Linked DNA regions of Homo sapiens. The protein of the gene in region 2 interacts with the protein of the main gene of each other region in a pairwise test. Each region holds a gene or a part of one and is shown on either strand. Other genes may lie near its edges.

Region 1 (3,500 bases), on a different chromosome or scaffold from region 2:
GCTAGGACTGCCATAATAAAATACCACAGCCTGGGTAGATCAAATAACAGAAATTTGTTTTCTCCCAGCTCTGGAAGCTGGAAGTCCAAGATCAAGATGTGGGCAGGTTTGGTGTGTTCTGAAGCCTCTTTCCTTGGTTTGCCACCTTCTCACTGCGTCTTCACTTGAAGACTTTCCTCTGTGTGAGCACATGCCTGATGTCTCTTCCTCTTTGTATGAGGACACCAGTCAAATTGGATTAAGATCTCACCCAATGGCCTCATTTTAGCTTAATCACCTCTTTAAAGACCCTATCTCCAAATACAGTTGCCTTCTGAGGTCCTGAGGGTCAGGAATTCAGCATATCACTTTTGCAGGGGACATAGTTCAGACCGTAATACTGTATGTGAAAACAAAAGCCTTTTCTGTCCCTTGAGTTTTCTTTGTGTTTGTAGAAGTCAACACACCAAGTAAAGATTTTAGAAAGTCTGGCTTTTCTATCATGAAAGTTACTTAACATTGAAATTATTCTTAAAAAGAAATTAATTCTGAAAAGTGTGACTTCTTAAAAGTTCATTGCTTGGGTTGGGGTGGGGTAGGAGGGCAAGGCCCAGCAAGTGGGTAGGCATGTGATCCGACACTACTGAGAGCCCAACTAGTCTGGGAAGCCGGACACAGGCACAGCAGATTCTGATGCAGGAGATGACTGACCACACTGGGAAACTGCTGCTGAGTCCCTTCCCTTCTTGCGTCTCTCCTGCACCCGAATCAGCTGCCTTTCCTGCCATGCTCCCATCTCCAAGGGAAGAACCAAATGCTGGGAGGCCCAGTCATCAGTCAGCCTCATTCCCACCCAGGCAGATCCACCCACAGCCACTGAGCAAAGCTGTGGCCCCTCAGACTAGCCTCCAGGTCCATCCCTCCTCTGCCAGGCACTCAGCAGCTTGTACCAGCAGGACCCATCCTCACCCTCTGAAGGACAGAGCTAAGCCCTGTCCACTGACAGCTTTGCTCCCCCAGGCCATGCTGAAAGCCTTGCACACACCATTTCATTTAATCTGCTCAGCAACTTCCCATTTAACAGATGGGAAAAACAAATTCCCATCTGAATCTGCCAGGTGGCAGAGCAAGGATTCAGAACCAAATTTGCCTGACCAAGGTCTCATGTTCTCCCTTTTTCATTCTATAAACCCACTGGTAAAGCCCAAAGGACTCCTTTTTTTAAAAAATTTAATTTTAATTTGTTTTTATTTTATTTTATTTTATTTTTAGAGATAAAGGGCTCACTTTGTAGCCCAAGCTAGTCTTAAACTCCTGGGCTCAAGCAGTCCTCCCACCTTGACCACCCAAAGTGTTGGGATTATAGGCATAAGTCACCACTCCCAGTCCCAAAGGGACCCTTTTGTGTCTACGTTTAAATGCATAAAATAAAATACAGAGAATTACAAAGGAAACTAATTTATTAAAATATGTACTTCTTTATTAATGGTTTAAACAACAAGATCTAGCAATGGATCTAAACGTTGCCAGCATGTTGAAAATTGTTGGTGTGTAGTTGTAATATGATGTGAAATATCACGTGAAAACTATGGGTGAAAGAATATCAGATATTATGGTTTGTGGCCTGCATTCATAATCAAAGGAAATGCTACATTTCAGTTAGTGCTTAGTAGAAATAATATGTACTTTTTTTTCATACAAGTTCATGAACCCTTGAATTCTATCCACAGACTCTGGGTGTGAGGATCCAGGCAGGAATGCCTGGTCTGTTAGGATCCGTGCTCTAGGGCCAAGGCCTTCAGTAAGATCTGGCTGTGGCTCTGATGTGGGCTGTCAAGTCCATGAGAGGAGGGAAGCCCTCCTCTCCCAGGGCCTTGGGGCTCTACTTCTCTGGGGAAGTTGGAGGCTGCCAGGAAAGTAAGTTCCAGTCTGCAACACTAGCAAGCCCCTCTGAAATAGGGCTGATTCTTTTGCCCAGATCTCACAGTGCGGTGGGGTGATGCTGGGAGCCCTTCAAGTGGCAAGCACTCGGCTTGTTTGTGTGATACACAGTTCTTTCACTGCATATATATTTAGTAAGAACCCTACTTTGTGCCAGGTATTGGCAAGACCCCATGGAGTCCATAGGCTGGTGGAAAGACAGCCAAGAAGTGGGCCTGGTGTGGCCGGTGGGCCCAGTGTTGGGGCACACGAGCTTGGTCTTTGATCCAGGGGCTGAGTGAGGTGGCAGTATTGGAGTCTGGGGTTTCTCACACACTTCCCTTGAGGCCCCAGCCTGGAGAAGTCCAGACCGTGCCCAGCAGTTGTTCAGCTAGAAGGGAGGAGAGAGGACATGGCAGCCTCCCTCATCTGTGTTACCATTGAGATTGGAAAGGGACAGTTAATCTGGAGGGGAGTGAGAGATGGGGCCAGGGAAAGCAAGCCATGCAAACAAGTTCGCAGAGGAAGAGAGGAAAGAGCACTTAGTTCTGCATCACCCTCTAAAAAGTGAGAGCCCTCACCCGTAGACCCTCTCCCCACTGTCCATCTGAAGTGGCCAGGAAGGAAAGGCAGCACTTCTTTCAATACCTCAGACCCTTTAATAGCATCTTGCTCCCTGAACCTTGTTTTTGCCTGCTAATTTCTGCAATCTGGCCTTGGCTCTGGCCCCAGCCATGACTGTTGCCATTTCTCCCACACTAGCCCTCTGGACCATGAAGTTAACACGCCCTCCCTGGAGCTGTCATCCAGAAGTTAATATACAAGTCAGTTAGTGCACAGACAGTACTAAAACAGCAGCAACAGAGAATTGTAAAATAATTAAGGAGGCCTTTCAGGGTGGCAGCCCCTGAAAGGGTCCCCATTCCACAGTCTGCCCCCTAAGCTGTGCAGGACAGAAGTTCAATTTGATCTCTGTTACGAGAGCCGAACTCATGACAACCATACCCATAAGAGGTTCCTGTTAGTTGACCAGAATATCCACCCTTTCCTAGATATTAGGATCACAGAATGACAGAAAGTTAATCGGTGAACGTGGAGTCAGACAAAATAGTCTTGAGGGATTTTTCATCAACCAAGCACGTGGATGCACTGTTCCCACAGCCCATCTCTTGGGCCCACCGGGCAGACCAGGCTATCCCCCTTCCTTGGTAAGCCTTTCCCAACTCTGATCATACCATTGATTTGGCTCCAGCATCTTTCGCAGTAGTCAGGCCTGAATCAGATCCCTTTCGTTCCTGCTGGTCCTAGGAGACGTCTGACTCCAAGGCCTCTGAATGTGCCGCTGGAGATGCCCCTTGATGGAGGACCCCCTAACACAGGCACCCAGTCCTGCTCACAATGCCCATGTGGCCCTATGGGTGACTAATTGATGTCATGCCAGAAAGAGCAATTTAAGAAACAGACTTTAAAAGAATCCTTGCCTGAGACAGTCTCTTACTGAAAACAGATTCCAGCCTAGTTAACAGGTGAGCTGTGGCACTAATTCGCCTGCCTGAAAGTGTTTATCAGACCATTAAAAGGGCAGTGAGTGAGTGAGGCAG
Region 2 (3,500 bases):
GAACCTCTACTCACAATGTTTCTGATGCATAAAAATATATAAGATTGCAAACAAGTCAATTATACTAAAATTAAATTATCAGTATATTTTCAAAAGCTCATTTTGAAAAGGTGTTCCTTTATTAAGAACTCCTGCAACACTTATTTCATCTAATGCTAATATTCAATTTTTGCTAAGTGTATTTTTTTAAACATTCTTACAGTTGGTGTGAACTGGGATCCAAACTAAGTCGATATATTGCACTTAAGCTAACATGTTTTAAGTCTCTGACACTGTTCTCTTTCCCCACTCTATGTCATTTATTTAAGAAGCTGGCTTCACTTGTCCTGTAGCATTTCCCACATCGTGAATTTGGCTAGTGTATATTTTCATGGTGTTCCTCTATCCCCCCTATCTCCTATAAACTGGTAATTATTTCTAGAGGCTTTACTTTTTCTAGGTTGTTTTGTCATTGTTGCAAGAATAATTCGTTAAGTATTCTTGTGTACTTGTTATTGCCATTTATTAGGAGGCACATTATGTCTGCCTGAACCATTTTCTGTGATGTTAAGACTGAATGGTAGATTTGTAGCACTGAACTGATTTATCCATTATTATAAAGTTCCCCCATCAAACCTCTACCCAATGGTTTTACCTGCCACTGATGATCACTGCCTAGATCAACTATTTCAATAATGATGATGTGCTAGCTCTACCTGCTTTCAGAAACTGTGATTATTCTCAAAGGAAAATTTTGCTTATTGTTCTATTACCCTAAAACATAAAACCTTACAGAAAAGGTAGAATATATACTTCTGTGTGGTTATGACACCAACTGGACGTAGAGTTAGGCTCACTTGTTTTCATTTTTTGAAGATCACTTTATTTTCCCTTTTTAAAATGTAATTGTTTCATAATTATGTAAAACATTTGGATGGTTCTAAAAGCTAAACTATCAAGCAAGGTAGATGTTTAAATATCAAACATGTTTGAACATTATGTTTAATATTGTTTATATGAATGTTTAAACATTAAATATGCTTAAATATCAAACATATTTAAAACATTTAGAGAGGTCTTCTTCCATACCTTCTCTTTTCTCTCCCCTCTCCCATCCACCCCACTGGACAGCCATTTATTTATTTATTTATTTATTTATTTATTTATTTGAGACGGAGTCTCGCACTGCACTGTCACCCAGGCTGGAGTGCAGTGGAGCGACCCTGGCTCACTGCAACCTCCGCCTCCCAGGTTCATGGCATTCTCCTGCCTCAGCCTCCGAGTAGCCGGGACTACAGGTGCCCGCCACCATGCCCGGCTAATTTTTTTGTATTTTTAGTGGAGACGGGGTTTCACTGTGTTAGCCAGGATGGTTTCGATCTCCTGACCTCGTGATCCGCCTGCCTCGGCCTCCCAAAGTGCTGGGATTACAGGCGTGAGCCACCGCGCCCGGCCTGGACAGCTATTTATTTGTTTTGGTTTATGTTTCTATTTTTTTTTAAATAATTTAAGGAAAGTATTCAAGAAAAATATATAAGAAAATTGAAAATTCTAATTTTTATCTACCCCCACAACAAAACATACACACACACATGCACACAGGCGCGCACACACACACACACATACACATAGGCATAGACTATATTGCCTGAATCTTTTCATTTTCAGTTTAACAATCTATCCTTAAGATCATTCCACAGCAGCACATGAGACTTCCTTTACTAATACATCTACTACTTCTAACAATTGCAGAGTGCGTCATCATTATGTAAGTAGCACTTTCTTCAACTAGACCTTACTGATGGTCAATGGGTTGTTTGTAATTTTCTGGGATTAAATAGTGCTGCAATGAACAGCCTCATACATGTGTCATTTTGATTTTCTGTTAGTGTACCTTTGGGTTAGAATCATAGAAGAATGCTGAGTTACAGCTAAAGTTTGTATAATTTTGTGAGATACTGCTAAATTCTGTATTCATAAACTATTTTTAAAAACTCCTAACAATATATCAGTGATTATTTCCCCACAGCCTTGCCAACAAACTATGTTGTCAATCTTTTGGATTTTTGCCAATCTAATAGGGGAGAAATAGTATTTCAGAGTTGTAATTTGTATTTCTCTTATTACAGTGATTTCTTTTCCCATATTTAAGGGACATTTACATTTGTTTTTCTGTGTAAAGTGCTTGTTCATATCTTTTCCCCATATCCTAGAATAATGACTCCAACTCCATCAAGTTCCTTACCTGAAAAGGCTCCACATGGCCAGAATTTACCGTTTGTTCCAGCCAAAACCTGGTGATAGGCAGATGGTCACCTGAACCCCCATTTAGAGCAGTTACCTTAGAAAGCTTGAAATTATAAATCCTTTCTCTGTCCCTTTGTGACTTAAATCTTCTACCATCAAGAACTATCTTCCCAAGGACCTGAGAACTACCTCTTTGGAATGCAAACAATCAAAAAGATAACTTTCACTTTTGTTCCCAGTCCCTGGCGAGAGGGTAAGGGCCAAACATTGGTGGGCCTAATTTGTACCACCACCTCCTGTCATAAATAATAAGTTTGTTTCTCTTCCAGATAAATGCCAATAACAAACCCAGATGGCCTACTCACATGGACCACCTATTGCCCTTAAAAACCACTCAGTGGCCGGGCGCGGTGGCTCACGCCTGTAATCCCAGCACTTTGGGAGGCCGAGGCAGGCAGATCACGAGGTCAGGAAACTAAGACCATCCTGGCCAACATGGTGAAACCCCGTCTCTACTAAAATACAATAAAATTAGCTGGGCGTGGTGGTGCGTGCCTGTAGTCCCAGCTACTCAGGAGACTGAGGCAGGGGAATTGCTTGAGTCTGGGAGGCGGAGACTGCAGTGAGCTGAGATCACGCCACTGCACTCCAGCCTGGTGACAGAGACAGACTCCGTCTCAAAACAAAACAAAAAAACCATCTTTCTTTCCCTTAGCAGTGTCTTTCCCTTAGCATACTCAACCTTTAAAAAAGTCTCTTCCCCTTTTGTTTTGGCAAAAGTGAGTTGAGTTCACACTGGACACTCTTCCCTACTGCAATAGTTACTGAATAAAATCTGTCCTTACCATTTTAACTAGTGTCCAGTTTATCTTCGACATCTATAATTCTAGTTATGGACCAACACAAGTACTGGGCTCTCCCAAATTGGACATGCATAGAATATCCAAAGAAGCATCACAAAGGCACTAAGAAATGAAGTACAATATAAACACCACTCAAGCCCCACACATCCCTGCATAAAGCAAAGATGCAAATACCACAGCAAAAGTTTAGAAAATGAAACCAATATTGGAACTACTGCCCACAGTTCCTCCGCTTCCTAGATCCTATGTCTTACTTTTTCTTGCTTTACCCTTCATTTTGCTGGAGCACGTCCTCTAGTTGTTTCCTGAGTTAAAAATATATTGGAATTAAATTTTTTAGAATGCATATCTGAAAGTGATTTTGTTCTCTCATACATGACTGGTAGTTTGGCTATCTATATACAGGGGAGT

Evidence for each region.
Region 1: the proteins of NCK1 (region 2) and WIPF1 interact in binary tests that used the Homo sapiens proteins (3 or more experiments, as listed by UniProt).

Annotation. Positions count from the first base shown.
Region 1 is NC_000002.12:174,587,805-174,591,304, reverse strand, and holds part of WIPF1 (WAS/WASL-interacting protein family member 1), read left to right. Parts: intron 1-3,500. UniProt on the Homo sapiens protein: Plays a role in the reorganization of the actin cytoskeleton. Contributes with NCK1 and GRB2 in the recruitment and activation of WASL.
Region 2 is NC_000003.12:136,921,208-136,924,707, reverse strand, and holds part of NCK1 (SH2/SH3 adapter protein NCK1), read right to left. Parts: intron 1-3,500. UniProt on the Homo sapiens protein: Adapter protein which associates with tyrosine-phosphorylated growth factor receptors, such as KDR and PDGFRB, or their cellular substrates. Maintains low levels of EIF2S1 phosphorylation by promoting its dephosphorylation by PP1.